6 separate regions of the Homo sapiens genome follow, and all the other regions are linked to region 5. The links come from fine-mapping of genetic effects on gene expression. A gene starts in region 5. Each other region holds a variant in brackets. All regions are shown on one strand. Distances are between the middles of the regions.

The links. PIP is the estimated chance that this variant, and not a neighbour inherited with it, causes the effect.
Region 1: its variant is fine-mapped to the expression of ARL4C in whole blood (TOPMed, PIP above 0.99).
Region 2: its variant is fine-mapped to the expression of ARL4C in tibial nerve (GTEx, PIP 0.97).
Region 3: its variant is fine-mapped to the expression of ARL4C in whole blood (INTERVAL, PIP above 0.99).
Region 4: its variant is fine-mapped to the expression of ARL4C in whole blood (TOPMed, PIP above 0.99).
Region 6: its variant is fine-mapped to the expression of ARL4C in whole blood (TOPMed, PIP above 0.99). The same link has a PIP of 0.9 or more in left ventricle.

The regions. Positions count from the first base shown.
Region 1 is chr2:234,436,546-234,440,633 of GRCh38, reverse strand. No RefSeq gene overlaps it. Among named protein-coding and RNA genes, the nearest start is that of LINC01891, 16 kb to the left of the region's middle. The variant C/T (reference allele first, on the strand shown) is at 1,836.
Region 2 is chr2:234,163,979-234,168,066 of GRCh38, reverse strand. No RefSeq gene overlaps it. Among named protein-coding and RNA genes, the nearest start is that of SPP2, 120 kb to the right of the region's middle. RefSeq lists enhancers at 3,383-3,883, 3,379-4,088. The variant C/T (reference allele first, on the strand shown) is at 2,412.
Region 3 is chr2:233,988,785-233,992,872 of GRCh38, reverse strand. All of the region lies in intron 21 of TRPM8 (transient receptor potential cation channel subfamily M member 8), which reads right to left. Among named protein-coding and RNA genes, the nearest start is that of SPP2, 60 kb to the left of the region's middle. RefSeq lists an enhancer at 2,297-2,346. The variant C/G (reference allele first, on the strand shown) is at 2,155.
Region 4 is chr2:234,424,138-234,428,225 of GRCh38, reverse strand. No RefSeq gene overlaps it. Among named protein-coding and RNA genes, the nearest start is that of LINC01891, 28 kb to the left of the region's middle. RefSeq lists an enhancer at 1-769. The variant C/T (reference allele first, on the strand shown) is at 1,940.
Region 5 is chr2:234,495,166-234,499,253 of GRCh38, reverse strand. ARL4C (ARF like GTPase 4C) reads left to right here and starts at 2,173. Exons shown (of 2, transcript NM_001282431.2): 1 at 2,173-3,242; 2 at 3,418-4,088. The coding sequence starts at 2,668. The coding sequence ends at 3,448. RefSeq lists an enhancer at 1,138-1,911 and silencers at 2,096-2,385, 2,496-2,595.
Region 6 is chr2:234,290,235-234,294,322 of GRCh38, reverse strand. All of the region lies in intron 2 of LOC105373933 (a long non-coding RNA gene), which reads left to right. Among named protein-coding and RNA genes, the nearest start is that of LINC01891, 160 kb to the left of the region's middle. RefSeq lists an enhancer at 3,311-3,360. The variant A/G (reference allele first, on the strand shown) is at 2,333.

The sequences.
Region 1 (4,088 bases), 59 kb after region 5:
AGTTTGGACAATAAACTCTGTGGTCACTCTGCCTCTGAGGCATAGGGAGAGGGTGGTGTCGAGGATAAATGTGGGCCTGTGACTTACACTCTGGAAAGACAGCAGTGCCATTGCTGAGATAGTATGCATGGGTGGATGCCATGATTCTACAGGTTGTCACGTCACAACCACTTTCGCTCAGAAATAAGCCGGGCAGTGCTGCAGGCTTAAGGGTGTTGGAATTTGTCTGGTTGGTCAACTAAGCAACGGGCTGCCCACCAGCATCAGTAAAGACAAGCACCATCTATAACCTTGGGCAGTCCTACCAGCCCTAGTGTGTCATGTGGTCACCCAGGCTCCCTGCCGACTATGGCCACCGTTCCCTGGCCACCTCCTCACATAGGAAACACATGTTGGTCTCATGAGAATTGTATCCCCAAGCACCATTTCCTCTTGGGCTCATGTGGCCTGCACACCCATCCCTCCTGTCCATGCTGATGGTGGGAAGACGCTAGCGAGGATAATCCCATAGCAAGAATCTGAGAGAGCCCAGGTGGGCACAGAGGGACAGTGACAGAGCCTCCGAAAAGGAGGAGAACAGGGGAAAGGGAATTATTTTTGCAGGCAAGGGAACAACAGCACAGATTTTGACCTACTCAATTACACTCCAGAGTGTGCACTTGCTTCCTGCCCAGCCACATTCTCCTGGTAGACACCTGATCCCCCTGTGACTTCGCTGCTGAAAACTTTTCTTTCAGATCCCCTTTGGCCATTGTCTGGGTGCTCCCAAGAGTCTTCCCTTCAATCCTACTGGGGGTCCCCAGCACCCTGGGCCAGGCCTCTCCCCATATTACCAAAAAGGGTTCAAACTGTTCCCATGAAGCCAACTCTTCATATGGATGGGATGGGATCCCTCGTTACTGAAGAATCACCAAGTCAAGTGAAGCATGAGCTGTTCCCCTTGACCTTGTCTTCTAATTGATCATCGGTTTTTCTTATCAGTTTGTGAGATCTCCTTGTACAATAGGCATATGAATATTTTTGTCTGACATGTGCTGAAAATATTTTTCCAATTTATCACTTTTCATTTGATTAGGTGTATGGTATCTTTCCCTAGGTTATATATATATATATATATATATGATAGATACAAATGACAAATACATGAATATAATTGCACATACACAGTGATTTCCTGTCAAGAGTAATATAGTCTCCCCATGTATAGTTTTCCTTGTCTCTAATTTTATTAAATTGTGTTTACATTTAGATCTTGGATTATTCAAAACATCGCACTATTTCTTCAATCACTCCCAAAGACAATTTATAAAAAACTTAACAGAATCTGATATTTCTAAAATAAATCACTCCAGACCAGTATCTTTTCTCTCCACCCCTCACCGAGACGGAGTTTTGCTCTTGTTGCCCAGGCTAGAGTACAATGGCACGATCTTGGCTCACCGCAACCTCCACCTCCCGGATTCAGGCGATTCTCCTGTCTCAGCCTCCTGAGCAGCTGGGACTACAGGCGCCCGCCACCCCACCCAGCTAATTTTTGCATTTTTAGTAGAGGCGGGGTTTCACCATTTTGGTCAAGCTGGTCTTGAACTCCTGACCTCAGGTGATCCACCCGCCTTGACCTCCCAAAGTGCTGGGATTACAGGCATGAGCCACCACGCCTGCCCTCCAGACCAGTATCTTATGTGAAAATATTTTATTGTATTCTAAGAAAACAAGATTGAGAGCAGAATTGAAATTCTACCCCGCCTGCCCCCGCCCCCCGCAGGCTGACTTCTCCAGCACAGCCCCTCACCTCCATTTCCTCTCCTACCAAAAACATTAGTCTTTCTTCTATC[C/T]CTAGACCAGCCCTGGGTGGAAAGACTTATTCGGATCTAAATTTTGAGCTTCCTGTTTCTTGCGGAGTTGATTTACGTTTCACTTTTCTGTTCTAAAAGCATTATCTATTCATTGTAGAAAACAAAAGTGTTATAAATAGTAAAGCCTCCACAAGCGGACATTGTTGGAGGTCTCAGCATCTGACTCTCGCCTCCATCTCCAGAGCCATGTCTTTCCCCGTAGCTGCTATCCAGGGATGGGCCCCCAGCCCGCCGAGAGCCAGGAGACCAACGGTAGCCTTACCTGTGGGGAGAGGCAGCCCACTATCCTTCCAGTCCCTGAAAGCTACTGAAGGGAACTCTGCTGCTCTGGCGGTGGGGGGTAGGCAGCCTTCAGCAGAGGAGGCAGGGCAGCACCCAAGGCCCTGGAGGGGGAACCCAGAGATGCCCTTCAGGACATGTTGTCCCAGACCTGAGTGTCTGATCTGCTAATGCTGTTATGCAGAAGGTTGGGATGAAACGCCCCACTTGCCCCACTCACTGGAGCCACATAAACCACCTGAGCTGGAGCGGGTGTCTTAGTCGGGCCTGCCAGGTGGCTGGAGGATGTGGGAGAGGAGGCCTGCTTCTCGTCCAATTCTCCTCTTCTTTGTCCAGAAATAGGCACACAATGAGGAAGGCGTCTGATTCCAGATGGCAATTGTCCCAGAAAAGCAGGTGCCCTGCACCAGTGTGGACATGCATGCGCATTAATCTAGCCATTTCCATTCAGGGTGCCCACGCCTTACTTCAGAAGGGGGCTCAGTTCATGAAAGGTGGAAGGAACCCAGGAGCGGGAGAAAAGAGTGCTGATGAAAATGGTCTTTGTTCTAAAGAAAATCCCCAAGGGAAGCATCGTTTGGTCGCTTGGTTTTGAATGGATGGAGCACAAAGCAAAGCCTCAGATGTGGTCAGTTGGGAAGGGAAGCACTCAAGCTGAGACAAGCCACTGCAAGAAAGCAAGTGGAGGGGCAGGTTTTCTTCTGCCCTCTCTTCTTCAACCCAAGAAGAGCTACCACATATTCACTGAGTACCACCCTGTGCAGGGAGCAAGGGCTGGGTGGTGGGAGCCTGCAGCCAAAGGACACGGGCATCCTAGGGACAGAGAAAACAGTGCCAACCAGGGATCCCTGTCTACAGCGTGGGAGATGAGGAGCAGAGCTGCTTATGGTCCTGAAAGAAATGGGTCTGAAGCAGAAGAAGAACACTTCTTAGGGTGGCCACTGCAGCCCGTTTGAGGGTCTTTCCCAGCCTGTGAATGCAGACAGATCAGGAGAATTTATAGGAACCAAATACGGGGGACACCACTCTCCCCTGCTCTCTCTTCCACCAAGAGAAGCAGTGCCATGGTGCCTGTGGTTATGCATGCTTGAAGGTCCTCACTTGGTCTGCTTCTTGCACTCTCTGCTGGTGGTGTTCCCTCGGGTACCATGAGCAGGGGCACCCACAGGGAGAAGAGGCCAGGGTGAGGCTCAGAGCCAAGGCTGATGCCTATGAAGGGAGGCAGCTGAGTTGGAGGCCACAGCGTGGATGGTCCCTGTCACTGGGGAGGGACAGCATGTGGAGCTTTCAGCTTCTCCCAGGGTGGGTGGTATCACTCAAGGAGGAACCAACAAACCCCACTCTTTCCCTTTCCCTCTCTCTTGACTTCCCTCCATCTTTCTTACCTTTCTTCCCCCCGCAAACCTTTATTGAGCACCTACTATATACCAGGGGTGATTCTAGGAGCCGGGGAAAAAGCAGTAAACAAAACAAATGCTTGTCTTTGTGGTACTTATACTCAGATGGAGGACAGGTCAAAGAAATACTTTGATGTTAGAGTTCAAGACAGTGCACTGCTTGACAAAGAAAGAAGCAAGTCAAGGAGAGAGAGGGCAGGTGGAACCCGCCACAAAGTGGCCTCTGTGTGGAGGGATGTGGAGCGACTGCACCGTCCCACTCGGTGTCCGTGTGGGGTCTGGGGCTCAGGACAGCCAGCACAGGGACTCCAGGGCTCCCCCATACACTGTGTGGTGCCTAAGGGTTCCAGTGGGGCAGCCCAAGTGTGTGCACTGACCTGGGCCAACATGCAGGGCCCTGTTATGCAAGGGAGAAGGAGCAGGGACTCGGGGGGAGCGGCGCCACAGGCATTCTGGTGTGGTTTCTCCAGACCCGCCTGCCTGGGAGGAACCTGATTCTGCAGCTCGTCACCCCTCAGCCCTCCCACAGCCCCTGCAGCAACTTCCAGGTCTCTGC
Region 2 (4,088 bases), 330 kb after region 5:
CATATTTCTAAATAAGTCTTTATGCAGAAAAATGTATAATATGATGATATTTAGTGTTAACAATTTTTAAACAATTTTAAACCTAAGATAAGCACAATAAGTAAATTATGGTATCTCCATATGGCAGAATTATATATATTTTGCAATAATTAAAAAGCATTTGTGGCCAGGCATGGTGGCTCAAACCTGTAATCCCAGCACTTAGGGAAGCCAAGGCGGGTGGATCATGAGGTCAGGAGTTTGAGACCAGCCTGGTCAACATGGTGAAATCCCGTCTCTACTAAAAATACAAAAAATAGCCAGGCGTAGTGGTGTGTGCCTGTAATCCCAGCTACTCGGGAGGTTGAGACAGGAGAATTGCTTGAACCCGGGAGGCGGAGGTTGGGGTGACCTGAAATTGCGTGACTGTACTCCAGCCTGGATGACAGAGCAAGACTCCATCTTGAAAAAAAAAAGTGTAAGGATTTTAATATTATTAAATATTTTGACACAAAATATATTATTTCAATATAGAATTTTTTAGTATCATAGAAAATAAGTTACGGTGAAGTTAAATGAAATAATAATATAAACCTATTAGGTTAATCTATATTAAAATATGCATAAAAAGTTTGGAGTAGTTACCTATAAGTCATTATAAGTGATTCTTTTTCTTTTTTGTGTGCTCATTTTCATATACATTTGCCATAGTGAGTGTGTTTTACATTGATAATAAACAGAAATTTTACCTTTAAAAAAAACCAATTCAGGTAGCAAAGTATACATGTAATGTAACAGCATATACCTTCCCATCCTTCCTTACATTGTGCCATGGATTTTATAAACCAGAGTGATTTGTGCGTGTGTGTCTAAAAACAGCATTTGCAAAACGAATTACTTTGGACCAAGTTTGTATCTACAGCATGAAGAGTAATCATTTGTTGGCTTGAAATGGCATTCTATTTTGCAGAGAGCTATGTTCCTGTGAGATATTGACTGAGGCCCTGTCTCAGCTTGAAAATATAAAATGTGTGAAATCAATCAATCAATAAGTACTGTTTTAATGATCATGATGTGCCTGTGATTGTACTAGGCACTGGAGGTTGAAAAGAAATTTAACCAGAGAGTTTTAGAGTTCCAAGAAGCATCAATGATCACTCATTTCAACCTTCTACCCAGAAAATGAATGTTCTGTATTATAAAGCTAGTTGGGCATTGTGATAAAGCATAACTTTGGTGGACTCCAATGATGTATTCACGTTTTATGTGGTTCTCTCACTTTGAATTTGCTCTGGCCCAGTGACCCTGCTTCAACCAACAGAATGTTGCAGAAGTGAAGCTACGCCAGTTCTGGGCTTAAACGTCAATCAGGCCTAGCAACTTCTCTTCTGTCTGGATGAAGGTAGACACAGCATAAGAACTACCTGTGACCATGATGCTCTGAGAAGCCAGCCTAACTATGTGCAGAGGCCACATGGAGGAAAACTGAGGCCTCCAGCCCACAGCCCCAGCTGAATTTCTAGATGCAATCAGCACTAACCTGCCAGCTATGAGTGAGGCCATCTTTGAAGTGGATCCCTCAGCCCCACTCAAGCCACCCAGATGATGCCATATGAACTGCCCCTGCCGAGCCCTGCCCAGATTGCAGAATCATGAGAAAATAAATTAAAAAGGCTTTGTTTAAGTCAGTAAGTTTAGGGTTAATTTTTTTGGACAGCAACAGATAACCAAAGCAGAATTCTAGTCTCAGCTTAAACACTTTTAGGAACAGAAGACTCCATGCCTCGTAAAGTAATCCATTCTGTTTCTTAATAGCAATAGTTATTAGAACATTGTTCTCTATATTTAACAAAAATCTGCCTTCCCATCACTCACAACCTGTCTCTATGGTAAAGTCAGTCTGTGTGCCTGCCACATGGCAGCTCTTCCAGTTTTTTTCAAAGAGTCATGGTCTTTATTCACCACACCTCCAGTTCCCATTGCACCCTGCACACCCAGGGTGCACATGAACAAGTCTTTTCTTTCTAGACATAAATATCTCCAACTCCTTCATGTCCCGATTCTTTCCCTAAACAGCTCAAACTCTTATTAGTAAACCAGATGCTACCTAGAAACACATGTGGGACCCCCATCACTGTGTAATAAAGTGATACCATCTAAAAGTGTTCCAGAGCCAAGTCGAGCAATCTTCTATACACATCCAGTTTGTCTTGTGGGTGGCGTGTATGTGTGCACATACATAAGGTTATTTTTGTTCTTGTTCTAAAATATTTCTGAGAGCATGGGAAATGGAATTACTCTGGTAGAACCACAAATTGAATAACTAGACCAGAATAAGTTATGGGCCTTGCATCTATCTGAGAGAGAATGGGTGGAATGTTCAATGTGGTCTCCCACAGCTGCAGAATGTGAGCCTTTCAATGTTTTCTTTG[C/T]CTTTCAATCCATGGCTGCTCGGAAATATTTTTCTCAGATATTTACTGACTAGGCCGAGCAAGGGGGTTGGGTTGATTGGAGGCAAGTATGGAAGCAAGGAGAAGAGCTAGTGGCTTGCTACAAGGAAGGCTGAGCGAGGCTGAGAACCGGAATAACAGGCACAGGAAAGGGGAGGGCCTGGGTGTCCCCATCCAGCCCTGGGGCATCCACAGAAACAGGGCCGGTGATGGTGCCTCCTGGAGGGGAAGACAAGTGGGGATGGGGAGGGGGGGCTTGGGGGGTGGGGGGTGGGCGGGACACTGTGAGCAATGGAAGCTGAAATCTAACACAGGAACAGAAAAGCAAATGCCACATGTTCTCACTTATAAGTGCAAGCTAAGTACTGAGTACATGTGAACACAGAGAAGAGAACAACAGACACCGGGGCCTACTGGAGGGTGGAGGGTGGGCGGAGGGTGAGGACTGATCAACTGCCTGTTGGGTACTACGCTTATCACCTGGGTAATGAAATAATCTGTACACCAAGCTCCTGCTACACGAAATTTACCCATATAACAAACCTGCACATGTACCCCTAAAAACAACAAAAAGGAAAAAAAAAAGAAAGGGAACCCGAGGGATGGATGCAGCCTTGGCTGCTTCCCTATGATCTCCATGGACCCTCGGCTGCTCGCCCATGATCTCCATGGACCTCTGAGTCACCTACTTTTATCCATCAGTGCAGAGTTGGCAATGCGATTTTAAAGCCTCGCCCCCAGGCTTTTCTCAGCTCCTGGCTTTTAGGTTCCAGTTCAGCGGACCCCAAGAGTAGTCACAAGAGCAAAACAGCTGAAAAAAGAGGTGAGATAAATCTCAAAGGGGAACTGAACTTTCTTCCTCCCCCTTATATTCAATCTGTGCCTGACAGCCATCCCTTGAGACCTGGCACTGGCCTCAGAGGAAGCAGGAAACCACGTGCCAGCCATCACCCCAGTGCCCTCACGGTGCAGTCACGGCGCAGCGGCTCGTTTACCCCAGTACCAGACTCTCAGCTGAGTGCCGTTAGCCCAGTTGACAGATGAGGAGGCAAAGACTCTGAAGGGCTACATGACTTGCTCATAGTGGCAGAGCCAGTATTCAAAATCAAGCCTTTCTTTGCGCTGCACCACTGGGCTGCTCTGATGGGACAACTGCCCCTGCTGTGTGTTTCAGAAGCTAAAGGTTTTGCCCAAGGCCTGCAAGGGGTGGTCTTTCCCTCAAGTAATCAAAGCCCCAGTAGGCCTTCAAGGTGCCTTGTCTCTTTTGTGATTTAGTCACCTACATGGAGAAACTCACAAATCCTCCCCCAGGACACGGCCAAGGTCATAAGAAGGTCACCATATAGAGAGCCTCAGTGTCTTGGCATTGGTGACCCAGGTCTGGCTCACAGCTGAGTTCATCCCTAGGTGGGACCGGTGCCCACGAGACCGAAGCCTTTGCCTCCGTGGCTTCCAGTTGGATTTGGTGTTGCCCGGGCTAGTCTCCTTCAGTCTTCTCCCCCTTATTCCTGAGGCTCCAGGGCTCCCGAGTGGGTCTCCAGGTAAGGTAATCACTGTGATCCTTTGTTGTAAATGAAATAGGAGAAGAAATGGGCTCCATCAAGCAGCAGCTAGCCATTGTGGCATGCATTATTTATGCGAAAGATACGAACATTTCTG
Region 3 (4,088 bases), 510 kb after region 5:
CTGGGCCAGCACGTGCACACCCCCTCAGCAAAGCAAGCATTGTAGCAGCTTAGAGACCATCTCTCATGCCCAGGGTCTCACCCGCCCCATCTGAGATGGTTCTTAAAGTCTCCTTGACAACCAGTGGCCATCTGGTGTTGTCCCTGAGAGAATTCTGCAATTTTCCCTTTGTGCATCTCCAGCGATATCTTGTGCCCTTGGCGTCCTGTCCCTGGCAAACACCTAGCTGGCTGGAGACATGCAGTGACAGCTGAGGTCCATCTCCTGAAACCAGCTGAGCAGGAGAGGAGGAGGAAGGAGAGGCCATGCAGAGGGACAGCAGTTCAGAAACTCACTGAGAGTGGAAATGGTACCAAGAGGGAACAGACGTTTAGAATTCAGATCACTTTGTACATAAATGAAGTCCAGAAGTACCTTAAAAGAATAACACACCATGACCATGGAATAGGATGACTAAATATTAAGAACATTTATGTCATTCATCTTTTGTACAATGCATCATAATACTAGATCAAAGGGAAAAATAGCATTTCAATAACTGCTAGAAATCTTCTGGCAACATATAACATCCTTTTCTGATTAGGAAGAGAAAGAGAAAGGAGCTTAATAAACAAAAAAGAGGAGGAACTTTCCATGACATGATAAAAAGAAAAAAAAAGAAAAGTAATTTAGTAAGGAGACTCATTCCAGAATAAATAAGGAAAACTTTAATAACCTTCTTACGTACCAAAACGTAGTCACTGAAAAAACATAATAGAAAAAGTACCTTACTTTTTTCCCCCTACCATAAGTGGCTGGAAACAAATTAACAAGGAATCTGCCAGATCCATATGAAAAAGACCATAAAACTTTACTGGGAAATTATATATGTTTGAATAAATGAAAATCATAGCATTTCTTCTCAATAGTAAGATGCCAAATTCCCTTAAATGATTCTACAAACCTAACATCATCATAATAATATTCACAAGAATTTTTGGGGGAAGGAGAAAGAAGAAAGAATCCACAAGATAAGCCTTAGGCTCCTCTGTACAATTAAATATACAAGAAATGCCAGAAAAGTTTTGAATAAGAATAATGAGGGAAACTTGTACAACAGATGTTAGAACGCCTAAAAGAAAAAAATACTTCAGTAATCAAAGCCATTTGGTAGTAAAAACCAAAATACAAAGACAGATCCACAGAACAGAATGCAAAGTCTGCAAAAAATTCACAAGGAAAAAGTAGATGCTAAAACAATGGCAGAATTTTCAAATACACTGAAATACAAGAAACTTGTCAGCTAATTCCCTATCAGATGGACACCTCCTCCAAACTTTGCGTAGATTTCATGGATTTTCCTTTGTCGCTCCTTCCCCAGCACACAGGCAGTATCTAGCCAGTACTGCCCCATGGCCCGTGGTGACAGTGACTTTTCGCTCTCTCTGATGCGCTGGTGTGTATGTTAAACTGTGTAACACATCCTGGTTCCCCTCTCATTCTGCAACATCAAAAAAGCAGGTACAAAGCCAACAACAGCCAGCAGTAAGAGATGACAAGCGATTGGATCACACTGATTTTGGAATTGATAATTCAGGTTAGTATATTGCTAACAGAATAACCAACTAAGACTGTGCCATATACTTGCACGAAGACCCATGACATTTCTCTTCAACTTCAGGAAAAAGTCCAAATTCTTTAATATACTATAAAAGACTCTCCATAACCTAGCCCCTGCCTACATTTCCACCCTCCCCGGCTGCTGATTCCTCCCTAGACTAACATTATCTCCCCTGCTTCTACCTCTCCTACCAACACTTGGGGCTCTGGGTACATGATCTTTCAAGCAAACATCACCTCCACCTAGCTGCTGCTGCAGATCCTAGGCTCCCCCAGCCAACAATCTCACAATTAATAACTCCCTCCTCTGCAAATAGCCTCTCCATGCTGTTTGTATTACATTATATTATATATATTATATTCATATGTTTCCATGTCATCTCTTCCCTTAATATCAGGGACTTAACCTTTCTCTGCCTCCCACTCCTTACGTGTAAAATGGCAATAAGGCTGCACCTGAGGCAGGTTAGATGAGGTGGTCAGAGCCTCCCTTGACAGGAAACAAGAAACTTGTCAAATTGATGAAGAGAACAAACCACCTAACAGTGCACAGAC[C/G]GCATCCTGAGCTCGTGGTTAGAACACCCTACAGCAAAAAGGCAGGAGCAGAAGAGAAAAATCCCCACATTTGTACAAGCACAGAAACCCGTGATTAGTGTCCTTGGGCTGACCTGTGCTCATTATAATAGTAAAAAACACACCCCCAGGTGGAGATTTAAAATGCTTATAAGACATGCGATGGATGTACTAGCATGTACAGCCACTGCACATGTGGACCTAAGAAACCACTCCTAACATGCTTAATAGCAACACCCCTTACCACCCCTTCATGAATAATCATGCAAATTTCCCATAAAGGGAGATCCCCCAGTATTAGACAGAGCTGTCTTGCCTTTGAGTGGCCCGTTCTGACCGGCTGCTAGAGTGTACTTTGGCTTTGCAGTCAACTCTCTTGCTTGCTTTTGCTTTTGACTCACTTTCAAATTATTTTCTGTCCCAAAGTCAAGAACCTGAACTAGCCCACCGGCTACACACCTACACAGAAATGAGTAATAATTAAATGAGGCGACCCCTGTAAAGCACTTGAACCTGTGCCCAGCATGGGAAAGCTTCAATAAATATTAGCTATTGTTACTATTACAATTATCTGCGCTCTTCTTTCTATTCTTTTCACCCCAATTCAATAACCTCCCTTAGACTGTTCACACAGCACTCAAACCTTTAGTTTGTATCAGGTCATTATTTTCTTCCTTCTACTTTTCTGCATGTTTATATTACTCCTAAGATCTGAAAAACATTTTTAGAAATTATTCTACAGCAGGACATGTTTGACGAGTCCTTTTCAGAACTGCCTGGGGTGAACTTATCTTCAGGGCACAATGCTTATAAATGCCCTAGCTCCTGGTAAGTCGACCTGGAGTCATTTACTGACTTTAAATTCACTTCCTGCCGCTGATAAGCCACACAGGCCCTGTGATCGATAATTTTAATGTAGAATAATCACAGATGTTCACATCCATTTCCTTTCTCTGTTGAATACCATCTAGAGAGCACTCCAATACTCCTTCAGAATTCCCAAAGGTACATTTGCATTGCAGTTAATAAGGTTGCCATTGTGTATGGTTAAGCTTTTAAATGAGTATTTTGATGTGGTGCCAGGGAAGGGTCACATCCTGGGGCCATCTGCTCACAGAGTAAGCCCTGAACAACTTTAAAAATGATCAGAAACAGTGTTCCAAGGATTTAACCTAAGGATAACAACACGGCGTCTCTCGCTGTTCTGGTGTCCCCAGACAGGTATTAGCCAGGAAAAGGCCTCTGGTTTAAGCCGGAGCTAATCGAGGAGGTTCCCCAAGGACAGGGATGTTGCAAGCTGTCACACTTAAGCACTGACTGGGGCAACAGTAGGATGTGATGCAGTGGCTCTGGCCTCGTGGGGAAGAGACCTGAGTTAAGCCAGATAACGCGCGGCCAGGACCACAGACGCTGAGCTGCTGGGACTTCATCTCCTTCACCTGAAAGTGACAGACGAGGCTCCCATCTTTCTCAGCTCCAAATTCAATCATTTCATTATCAAAATGCAGGTAATGGATTACAAAAGTGCCCGGTTCTCATGAATGGCTCCTTCAGACAGCTCATGTGCATAGATTCAAAAAAGCTCTAAATATTTTACCATGTGCCTCGTTGAGATTTACCAAGTTAGCATAACTCAAAGGCCATGGTTTTAGGAGCTGTTGGTCTTTTTGTTTAATGTCTGTAAATATAGTTAGTGGTGAGTTCTTACAGGACTATCCAGTGTAGCTATGACATCTTATCACTGTAAAGAAAAGCCTGAAGCCATCCCACTTCGCCCTCGCCTTTGCTTCAGGTTTTGGGATTGGTCTGTTTTGCTCCCTCTCTTGTGGAGACATAATCACCCATAACCTGCTGCTTCTCTCTGCAGCTCAGATGTTGGCCCCTCTGACTTTTGGACACTATTTGGACATCATGAC
Region 4 (4,088 bases), 71 kb after region 5:
AGAAACCTTCCACAAAACAAATCCTAAATTGGATTCTATGTCTCCAACAATAGGGAAATGATTAAGTAAATAACGGAAAGAGTTATACAACATTTTTTCAGGAATTTTTAGTGACAGTTAAAAACTTATTAAGTAAAAAAGTCAAGAAATAGATTTTAAATTACACTCTGATATCAAGTATGTAAAACACTTATGCTGAGAAAAAGACTGGATATAGCAGAAGGGTGGTCACCGATAAGGGGTGAGGCTTCCGGAGGATCGTGCGAAGTTTTCTGGGTACTTCCTGGTGTGACGCTGCATAGTGATGTGGTGAAAATGGCAAGTTCCTGGAGGGCTTGAGGTGGGTGGAAGTTTGCATTCTCAGGGAAATGCTTGGAATAGTCGTTGATTGGATGGTTCTCTACATTCTTCAGATTCCTCTGCAGAGTGCATTTCTTTCTCCCTCTCTCAAAGTGTGGATTAAATTGTTTTGAGCTGGTTTTGTCTGCAGCAATTAGTTATCTTAACTAAAGCTCATAAAAAAACAACAACAGAAAGGTAACATGAATGAAGGCCATGTCCTAAAGTTGTACAGGAAACAGACTAGGGAGCAGAGAAACGGGTGTGGGGCGGAGGGGAAAGGAAGGTGGGGGTGGAAGGTGGGGTGGAGGAGTCCAGCCTTCCCTTCCAGCAAACAGTAAGCAGCTTTGAGAAATGGGGAGGGGGCAAACTGATCTGAAATGAAGAGGATGGCCTCAAGGATGGCCCAGCTAGAGAGAGACCCACCATAAGTACTGCTCTAAAACCTTGGCCACTCCAGCTCTGGCCCCGCCATCAGCAACTGCTGGGTGTGTTAGAGACCCAGGCTCTCAAGCCCCAGCCCCAGGGCCCCAGAGCCTGCTTGTCAAAGGATTCTCCCTCGGTGAATTTGTGTGCATCAAATGAGTTTGATGCAACCCTTTCTGAGAGAGGGGGTTTCAGGCTCTGCCTGCCTGGAGGGTGAGAGGAAGTGGCAGCTCAGAAAAATCTAGAAGGGAGAGACGGGGGTCAGAGGATTTGCCGGACAGCCTGGCACCCAGAAGCAGCAGTGGCTGGCTCATGGTGCAACCCAGGGAGCCATGTGGACGATGGGGTCGATTGTTGACATCAGCACTGAGACGAACCCACCCAGCCTCATGTTAAACAATCAAATCTTAAATGATTGAGAGGTGCTTCACACTAATCTTGGCTCTTGAACAGTGGGGGCTGTTCCATAGGCTCAGTGTAATCAAGAATCATTCTTGCTCTGCTTCCGAGGGAGAAGGCGTTCACCTCTGCATTAATTTCAGCTGTGTGGGGAGACGTGCTCCCTGAATTTGGTTCCATCCTGAGTGGGAGGGTTGCTAGTCTCAGAAGCCTCTTCTAAGTTTCTCTTTTGACATCTGCTTTGGGCAACAACATGGCCACTGCTTCCTAGAGAAATGGGAAGAGAAACCCTCACAGTTCAGAGGGTGAGAGTGGCTGATCCCTCCCCCATCTGTTGACACTCCTGGAAACTTTTGGGGACTTCTGGGGATGGGGCAGAGGGGCCTATTGCAGAGGGTACATCTTCCCACAGGTTAGATGTTGACGCTCCAGCTGCCCCTGGCCACCGATGGCAGATGATTTCCTGAGCCAAGGATCCTTTCTTGGATTCTGGGTCTCCCTCACTTAGGAAGTAGAAGAGAAACTTTCATTTCCAAAGTGTTACTCTGCCATGAAATCCATCAATGTGGAGTGGCAGAACAGAGAGCTCAGCAGTTCCATTATCTGATGGAGCTCAGACAGTGCAGAAAAACAAAGTGTTTCCCTTCTCAGTGTGTGTGTGTGTGGCTTTTTTTTTTTGGGGGGGGGGTGGTCATTGTTAAACTGACACAAGGTGACCTGATAGGGGAAGGAAGATCTGTGATTCATTAACACTCTCTCCCTTCATCTTTGTAAT[C/T]GTCATCATTTTCATTTCTTCCAGCAGTCTCAGGACCTGCCTCCAAAGGCAGGTCCTGAGGGTTCACAAGAAACCTAGAGCTGGGCGAGCTTGCTTCCCTCCTGCTGGGTTCAGCCCTAACTGCCTCTTCCTCAGCCCCGCCCTGCACACCTGCAGTTAGGGCACCGAGGCAGCCCTAACGCTTCTGAGGAAGTGGGTTTTGTGGGTAGGTGGAGTTCTATGTCCCAGAGGGTGAGGAACTGGGCACCACACCCATCCCTGTATGCAGTGGGTAGAGTGGCCTAGAGGGCCAAACCTGGGAGGAGGGTAGGGAGGACCCTCTCTGGCCCATCCTCTGCTTCTTCCCGCATGCCCCTGAGGGCTGCGTTGATGTCCTCATTTCCATATAACTCCAGTGACACAGAAGCTCCTTGTGAAGTGAGCTTTCCTGCCTAATTGAAAGACACCAGCAGAACATGACTCAGGGTGGCAGTCGTCCTGCCCTGGCACTAGGCAGGTCACCCAAACCTCCTTGTTCCTCCAGATGAAGATGCTAAAGCCTGGCCAGGTGAAAGAGGAAGAGGCAGGTCACCCAAACCTCCTCATTCCTCCAGAAGAAGATGCTAAATCCTGGCCAGGTGAAAGGGGAAACTCAACCCCAAGGAGTCAGGTCCAAAGGGACGGGTCCCCAGGGACTAACTGGGACAGGGGTCTGAAGGGACCACCAGCAGGTCAACCCACCCACCAGCCTCACCCGTGCTGTGTCCCCAGACATGAAGCCAAGAGAGCAAGTTCCCTAAATTCCCTTCCCACCTCTGCCACGACCAGCTGGGTCTTATAGTCACTCCCTGCCCGGCCTCATTCCCAATAAAACCCAACCACCAGGGGCCCCGCCACTGGCTACCACTTAGCTCGCTCTCACCCCCATCCCTGTGACCTCCCCCAGAATCTCCTATGGCTTTTCCCACCACCCTCCAACCATTACCAGTGAGGCTTGGGCCCAGGGTGTGTCCGGGCCTCTCTTGCCACCCACCACCCTTCATCTTTGTAGCCCGCTTTCCTGCAAGAGGGAATTCTCTCTTCCCATTACAACAGGGCCTGTGGCTTGAGCACCCAGGGTGCATGTGTACAGACTTGGGGAGCAGGGGCTCAGCTCCAGGCACTTCTAGGACCCTGGACCCTGAAATTTATATAGTGTTCCTTTATCTGGTAGCTCATGTCACTCATTAAGAGTTGTTCCATTTCTGGTGGGGTGCGGTGGTTCACGCCTGTCATCCCAGCACTTTGGGAAGCCGAGGCAGGCAGATCACCTGAGGTCAAGATGAGCCTGGCCAACATGGTGAAACCCATCTCTACAAAAATACAAAAATTAGCTGGGCATGATGGCAGGTGCCTGTAATCCCAGCTACTCAGGAGGCTGAGGCAGGAGAATCGCTTGAACCCGGGAGGCAGAGGTTGCAGTGAGCCGAGATCGCGCCATTGCACTGAGCAACATGACTAAGCAAGACTGTCTCAAAAAAAAAAAAAAAAAGAGTTGTTCCATTTCCTAATTTTGAAGGGTTTCATTTTACAAAGATTTGGAATGTGTATTTCTCCCAGAACAATAATTTCTTTTTATTTGTTGAAATGGTGTAAGCAGAAGTGTCATGCTAAATGTCTGTACATGGTTTCCATTCTCTTATGTAAACTCCATTTTTATAAATAGAGAATTCAATTTGATTCAACTTTAAACAGATGCTACAGTTAATTTTGAGCAATTGTTAATATGTGTGGGAACATGCTTTGAAAATAAGTCCGTGATCCCAATCTGTGCTCTGAGTGTTTTCATTGAATTGAGCACAGAAGTCCAATTCTGGAGAGATGAAAACACAACAAAGCCAAGATGATTTGAAACTGGCCTTATCTAAAGTTTTGTTCCTTTAAAAAATCAAAACGTCATTTATTTTCCTTCCACCCCAGCCCCCGTCTTCCCAGCTTTGATCTTTCTACTTGTCAGAATATTGCATCAATGACACTGGAAATATTTATTCAACAAATACCTATTAAGCCCCAATTAGAGGCTGGATGTTGCATTTGGTCCTGAAAATTAGACAAATACGTTCCCTGTTCTCAAGGAGCTTATAGGCCTGGGTAAGGTAATTGCAGACACCTGAAGTATAACATACACCTG
Region 5 (4,088 bases):
ATCATCATTATGAATTATGCCAACATATGTTGTTTCTGTTGCCTCACTAGAGTTGCTCTTTTGGTGACAGATCCTGGATTCTTCTTGGAGAACCACCCTTCCCGATTTCAACCCCTGGGCCACATCCACTGGTGTGTTCCCTCCTCCTGGACTGCAGTCCTTGATCCAGGGTGCGTGCTCCAGGCTTTGGTTAGAGTTACTGGGAAAGAGTTGTACCTTTTCCTTTCCAGGATCTAAACCAAGGATGTGAGTCCAAGGCTGCCAGAAGGAAAAAGAATCAACACAGGGGAACACGGAGGAGGACTGGAGAGACACCTGCTCGAAAGACTCCTTTTGAGCTCCTGGGTCTAGCCATGCCTGAAGAGGACCTTTATCCTTAACTTTTCAGTGATGTCAGTGAATACATTTCCATTTTTATTTAAAATGAAGTAAGTGGCACAGTGCAGCCAATATTTTCTGTTGAACTCTATCCTTCGGGTGGCTCACTTTATTCCTCATTGAAGGAAATAGCGTGTGGGTAGAGTGGGATGTGAGGAAGAGGGCAGGCAGGTGCCCAGTTTTGTGCATACAGACCCTTGGTCCTGGAGCAGGCAGTGGGCCTCTAGGTTCTGCCTTAGCCGTCACGGGCGCCTAGGCCTTGTTACCTCACTGGACAACGTTGGGTGGAATGATAGGCAGGGTCCTTTCCAGCCTGATACTTCGTTTCCAGCCCCAAATCCACTCAGTAGAGTGGATGGTCGCTCCGGCTGCCACCTTGGGAATTCCAAGGATAGGGGTGGTGGTGGCTTGTCCTTCCTTCTACAGGTGAGGTCTTCTCACATGCTTTGGTACCAACGATATCATATGTCTTTTCGTGGTTTGTGAACAGAAGGTGATAAAGTATTTCTCTAAAATTCTAGCTTTTATTCATAAATTCTTAGCATTTTCATTTTCTTCTCCCTTGACCCCGTTTCCGTCGTTTCTGTCTCATAAGCTAGAGCTGGGAAGATGCGGTCGCCCATGCTGCGGCCTGCTGTCTCCTGCGGAGCAGCTCTCCCCAGATCTGTGTGTTTGCCATAATATACTCTCACTTTTCTCCGCACCCAGAGAGGATATACATTTGTTACATGTTTACAAACCAGAATAAAACCATTGAACTGAGGTGACAGGAGGTGGAACCCGTGGAATATCAGTGTTTGTAACCCACTGCGCCACCAGCTCCAAGCTGTAGACACATTTTCTTTCAGCCCCCGGGGCTGGTGTTGCCATTTCTGCGGAGTAGTTCACCTGCGGGCAGGTGGTTCTCAGTTCCCAAAGTCGGGTGGCAAGGGGTGCTCTCCCGAAATGCTGACGCTTCCCCTGGGATGTCAGCAGAGTCGATGCGGACGAAATGAGGTAGCCCAGGCGTGTCTGGGAGGGTGAGCTGTCCGAGCTACTTGGGGCAGGTAGGTCTTCTAATCCCCCATCGCGGCCTAGGTCCGACCCTGCCCCAACCGCCGCCACCGGGCAAGAAAGGCTGGGCCTCCAGGGTGCCCTGGGCACAGGCCTGGGCTCCGGAGGGCGGCGCTGGCCGGGTGCAGCCCCCTGGAACCCAGGCAGGAGGCGAGCCTGGGCGTCACTGGGGGCCGGGGCCGGCGACAGCCGCGGCGCGAGGGTGGGAGGGGACGCGCCCGGCTGGATCCAGAGCGCAGGCTGGCAGCTCACCGAGGCCAGCCCCGTCCCGTCCCTTCTGGGGTTTGGAGGCCCCAGCCTCGCCGCCCTCACTCCCCAGAGCGGCGCTCTCCCAGTCACCCTGGGGGCCGCCCTGCCCCGCCTCGCGCCCACAGAGCTGGGACCCCGGGACCCACTCCCTCAGGCAGGCTGCGTCGCCCACGGCTGCGGCCCGGAGGGGCAGGGGGCGGGCTAGGACCCGGGCGGGGATTCCGGGAGCCGAGAGCTATTTTTGCAAACGCGTCAGCCGCTGGGGAGGAAGAGCCGGCTCCGCGCCCATTGTGTCTGCGCGGCGCGGCGCGGGAGGGGCCGGGGGGCGGCGGGGGGCGGCGGGGACGCAGCGAAGCGCGCGAAAACGGCCGGCTGGGCGGGGAGGACCGCGCCTGACCCCCGGCGGCGGGCGGGGCGGGGCCCGGGGCGGGTCCGGGGGCGGGTCCGGGGCGGGGCGCGAGGGGGCGGGTCCGGGAGCTCTCCGGCCGCTGCAGGCTGGCGGCTGCTGCGGCGGCGCGGGGACTGTGAGGCTGCCGAGCGGACAGCGACTCCCGGGGAAGCCCGCGCTCCGGGAGCGGGAGCGGGAGCAGGAGCAGGAGCAGCGCCGTCCCAGGCCAGAGGCGAGCGCCGGGCGCCGGGAGAGCGGAGAGCCCGGGCAGCTGCCGGAGCGCGGGGGCGCGGCCCGAGGAAACCACAGAGCGAGCCCAGGCCTGGGGAGGGCGCCGAACATCTGAGGCGGCTTCGCGGGAGACAAAGCCGCGCGTAGAGACGCGATGCCCGCCGATCGCGAGCCCGGCCGGCGAGGGCGCGGGGACTGCGGCGTCTGAGCGCGCCAAGCCGTGCGCCCGCGGGGACGCCGAGCCCCGGGGCCGGTGCGGGCGGCGGCGGGCGGGGCCCAGGTGCGCCCGGCCGCGTCGGGCCCGTGACTGCTCGGGGGGCGGCGCCCTCCCGCCGCAGCCGCAGTGGCTGGCGCCGCAGCCAGGAGCCATGGGCAACATCTCCTCTAACATCTCGGCCTTCCAGTCCCTGCATATCGTCATGTTGGGCTTGGACTCGGCCGGCAAGACCACGGTGCTCTACCGGCTCAAGTTCAACGAGTTCGTGAACACGGTGCCCACCATCGGCTTCAACACCGAGAAGATCAAGCTGAGCAACGGCACGGCCAAGGGCATCAGCTGCCACTTCTGGGACGTGGGCGGCCAGGAGAAGCTGCGGCCGCTGTGGAAGTCCTACAGCCGCTGCACGGACGGCATCATCTACGTGGTGGACTCGGTGGACGTGGACCGGCTGGAGGAGGCCAAGACGGAGCTGCACAAGGTGACCAAGTTCGCCGAGAACCAGGGCACGCCGCTGCTGGTCATCGCCAACAAGCAGGACCTGCCCAAGTCGCTGCCGGTGGCAGAGATTGAGAAGCAGCTGGCGCTGCACGAGCTTATCCCGGCCACCACCTATCACGTCCAGCCGGCGTGCGCCATCATCGGCGAGGGCCTCACCGAGGGCATGGACAAGCTCTATGAGATGATCCTGAAACGCAGGAAGTCCCTCAAGCAGAAGAAGAAGCGGTAATGCGCCCGGAGCGACCGGGGAGCGAGCGAGTGCGTCAAGAAAGAATGAATGGATGGATGGATGGTTGGATGGATGGATGGATGGATGAGCGAGAACCCGCGCCCGCGAACAAAGAGCGAACCAAAGCGATGCTTCGAATTTTTAAAACGGAATCTCTGCACCCAAATGCAGGACTGGTGACTTAAGGAGCTGCGAAGTCTGATTTACCGGCCTACTCTCGACCTGCCCCCCACCCCCAGCTCAGGGGACCTTTTGTCTGAACGCCAGAGCTACTGACCAGGTCGGGGGGCCGCGGTGGGGAGTGGAAGAGCCGGTCCTGCTGTCCGCCCTCCCAGCCCCAGGTGGAAGGCTCAGTTGTCGGAAAGACAAAAGCGATTTCTTCCCACTCCTGCAGGGCCAGAAGTTCAGGCTGCCCCGCCTCCACTGGGGGATCGCACCTGTGAATTACCTGAGGTATGCATTTCCCAGAACCGTGGGCGTACCCACCTTGGGGGGCATGTTGGTTCTGGGGGGACCACCTCTCCTTGCATTCAGGGGCTGTGAAGCTGAGTAATTTTCGGTCACAGGGCAGGCCCCTGTTGAAATTTCATTTGTCCTGCTCTGGGCCCAAAGGTGGTGGTGGTTTGGGTCATCAGAGGACTGCCTGGGACGGTTCAGCGGGCACGGAGCGCTGTGCTGGCCTGGCTGGGGATGGCCGCGGAGGTGCCCTTTTCCTGGTGCTTTGTGGTGGCTGCAGAAGACCAGTTTTGTTGAGAACTGCTTTTCAGCCTGGAATCAGACATCTTCCAGATGGTTTGGACCCTGTCCATGTGTAGGTCATTATCACACAAAGAGACCAATAA
Region 6 (4,088 bases), 200 kb after region 5:
CTTCTTCAGGCAGAAAGGCAAGAGGAGCCCTCCCAACCCAGCCCCCAACTCATCCCCTGGCACAGGAGGACCATGCACCTGGACAGGAAGCCTGGGCCAGCTGTGTGGGCAGAGAAGAAGGTGGATGAATGAGGAGGTACACAGGAAGGTAGGGGATGGATGACTAAGAGCCACAGAGGAGCTCAGAACTGCCCCCTGTGGAAGTCGGGGGCGTGAGTGATAGAAACTCGGGAAGGATTTTGACCCTAAACCTGACATAATTAGCAGTGTCTGTTGAGGAAGGATCAGCAATGCAGAGAATAAACTGAGGGGTGGGGAAAGACTGTACAGAGGGCGACTCCTCTGGAAGATGATGAAATTCTAAACAAGGGCAATTATAGTTGAGACAAAACCAATAATGGATTAGAATTTCAGCTCCCCAGAGGGCTTTCTGGGGGGGCCATTCCTGTTTTCCCCTAAAGAAAATAGTGGGCCAATAGTAGTATATAAATATTTGTTGAATGAATGAATCAGGAAAAAGATACACTATATTTCTTTCTTTCTTTTTTTTTTTAAAGACAGTTTTAGCTCTTGTTGCTCAGGCTGGAGTTCGGTGGTATGATCTCAGCTAACTGCAACCTCTGCCTCTCGGGTTCAAGTGATTCTCCTGCCTCAGCCTCCTGAGTAACTGGGATTACAGGCACCCACCACCATGCCTGGCTAATTTTTTTTGTATTTTTAGTAGAGATGAGGTTTCACCCTGTTGATCAGGCTGATCTTGAACTCCTGATCTCAGGTGATCCACCTGCCTCGGCCTCCCAAAGTGCTGGAATTACAGGCATGATACACTATATTTCTTATAATGTAATGCTGGAAGGGCCTGATGAGTTCCTGAATGTAAAAGGTAGTGATGGAGGATTTCAGAAAGGCCACAAACAATAATTCCTCAAAACAATGACATCTCAATCAGTAAATTCATCCAGTGTTGCCTCATACATTTCTTTAAATATTACTGCATTGCAGTGATTCTGGTTATAACTCTACAGGCCATCAAAATATTTTCAAAGGCCACTGTTTTTCTTGTAAATGTGAACATACGCATTGTATAGAATAAACTCCTTGCTAGGATTAATAAAAAAGCTTTTTTTTTTTCCTGTTTGGTTTTCTTGTAATTTTAGTTTTTTTTTTTTAATACAGAAGTGTTACATTTTTATCCAAACATGACAAAGTATCTCTTTGATATCTGATACTTCCTCAAAACTGAACCATTGTTTCAATGTCAATTTCCTCATGCAAAGTGTTATCACTGGGGGAAACTGGGTGAAGAGTACACAGAATATAATATTTCTTACAACTGCAGGTGAATCTACAAGATCTCAAAATAAAAAGCTATTTTAAAAGCCTGAATGATTCACCTTCCTCACTGATGATCTTTCACACTGTTATGTCAAAAGGAAATCTTGGATTTACATACAGCCCCTGGAGATGGTTCATTGTCTTGTCATTTCTTTTTCATTGAGCCCAGAGGAGAAGATTGTTGCTATGCTGTTGTCATTGCAGCTTTTCTTTTTTTCAGTTGCATTTCCAAAGTAAATATCTCTCTTATTTGCAGCCTCTAAATTGCAAGATTGTCGCCATGGTTATTCTTGCTGCTCCTCTGAGCTTTATCACTTCCTCTCCGGATGCGGTTTGTTCTGCTTGTAGGTTTGCCTTCGCCTCAAAGGAGCGAAAAATGAATCATTTCAGAGTGCTCTGTGCACCAACATAGTGCGATGTTGTCTACCTTTATATGATTCAGTCGAAACGACATGGAAAAGTTCCTGGTTTAATTGATATGGTCCTCTGATTGTTGTTGACAACTACAGATACACTGTCCTAGCCATGTGGATGGCAAAAGCAGCCCCATATATGTCATCTGGGGTGGCGTTCAGGTGGTGAAGATGGGAATTGGTTGTGCAGACAAAAGTTTTGCCTGAGTCTCTTCCTGTCCTTTGCTCTCCTCTTGTTGATTCTGCGAGGATGTCTCTGGTCTTGAGGCATCCTGTGGCTCATATGGTCACCTGTGGCCCTCCAGACTTTATCACCACCAGGCTCATTCCAGAGGCCAAAATGCCAGTGGTTAGAGGGTGTCTGCATCTGACCTGCAGGAGGTGAGATACTCTTGGCTGGGTGTGTCTGGTTGCACGAACACCCTATAGTCCATTGCCCTGTTTATGTGTTTTCTGTCACTGTTGCAGCCACATCCTTCCTGGGAACTGTAGCACAGCCTCCCAGCTGACGCCCCTGAGTGCCCTTTGGCCCTTCTCCAATCCATTCTCCACAGGCAGCTGGAGCAATCACTTTAAAATGCACA[A/G]TTGATTACATCACACCCTTGCTTACTGCCTTTAGTGACTCCCACATACCTAAAAATAAATCGAACTATGGCACGTGCTCCCCTGTCCCCTCCACCACACATGCCTGCCAGCTAATGGTCCCATCTCTGCAGGACACCCTCCAGCTGTGTGCATCAGGCACATGCAGGCCAGGGCCCCTTCAGAACAACTGTGCAGCAGCCATAGGCGCAGCATGGAGCCCAGGGATTCAGAAATGGGGAGGAGTTGAGCTTGGTGTCCTTGCCAGTGTCCTATGAGTTTAGGAGTGTGATATTATGAGATAAATATTTGGCCTTTGAATCCATTTCCTGACATACACCTCCTAAAATCCTTAGAATCTCCAAAGTGATGTACTTTTGAATGCTGATGAGTTGGCTGATGGCTGGCAGCCCCTAGGTAGCTTCAGGGTGAGGCTGGTCATTGGAAAGACCAAGGCAGGATTAGAGGGTTGAGATTTTCAGCCCCACCCTGAACTCCAGGGAGGGGAGAAAAGCTGAAGGTTAAGTTGACCATCAATGGCCAATCCTGCCTATGTCACAAAGCTTCCATGAAAACCCAAAAGGACACAGTTCTAAGAATTTCTAGGTAGCTGAACCCATGGAGGTTCCCGGAGAGAGTCACACTCAGGGAGAGCATGGAAGCTCCGCACCCCTTCCCCTATACCTCGCCTATCCATCTCTTCATCTGTATCCTTTGTAACATCCTTTATGGTAAACCTAAGGGTTTCCCCGAGTTCTGCGAGCCACCCTAGCAAATTAATAAAGAGGGGGTCTTTATCAATTTATAGCTGGTTGTCAGAAGTTCCCGAGGCCTGTACTAGTGAGTGATGTCTGAAGGTCAGGGGTGGTCTTGGGGGACTAAGCCCCCAACCCCTGGGATCTGACGCTGTCTCCAGGTAGAGAGTGTCAGAACTTAACTGGAGGACCCCCAGTTCATGCCGGTGTCCATGTCTGGGCAGTTTGCTCGGTGGTGGGGAGAAATCCCCACACATTTGGTCGTAGAAGCCTTCTGTGTTGATTGTTGTGGCGCGGCGTGAGAACAGAAGAACTGTTGGAGTTTTTTCACCCTCAGAGAGTGTTCTCACTTCTGGCTCCACTTCCTCCCAAGGTGTCTGGGGCACGAGTTCTGCCGGATGGCAGCGTAACTGGCTTTGGTGTTGATTTATGAGTCACCACTGGGGTGAGATGAGGGAGGCAGACTCAAGTACGTGATTACAGGGCACCAAGAGACCACCTGCCCAACAGATCTTCACTCATTGCCTTACCAAACCTGAAATTACCTTAGCAAAAGCAAGTAAATGTGGCCACTCTAGGGCCCCGACCTGGATTCCTAGCCAGACCAGCCACTGGTGCTCTCTATCTGATGCAGCCAGGTTGGTCTCTCTCAACCTCCCCAAACATGCCCATGCCTTCCTGCTCCTCTCTACCTGGGCATGGGCTATGCCCACCTCCAGGAGGTCCACCATGAAGGCGTGAGCCCAGTAATATGGAAATGTCTGTTATCAGGGCCTTTAGGGTATCCTGTGATGGTGGGAAGGGGATGCTAGCACGGGGCCAGGAACAGCAGGAGGTTTGAGGCTGCATTGGAGAAGGACAGAGCTGGGCTCTTGAATCCTAAGGCTTTCATCTCAGGCATGAATCTGGTGACATCAGGACATTCTCCAGAGCCCATTGGTACAGGCAGATTAGGGCAGGTTTGAGAGATTCTAGAATCAGGTAGATAGTACATTTTGGCATG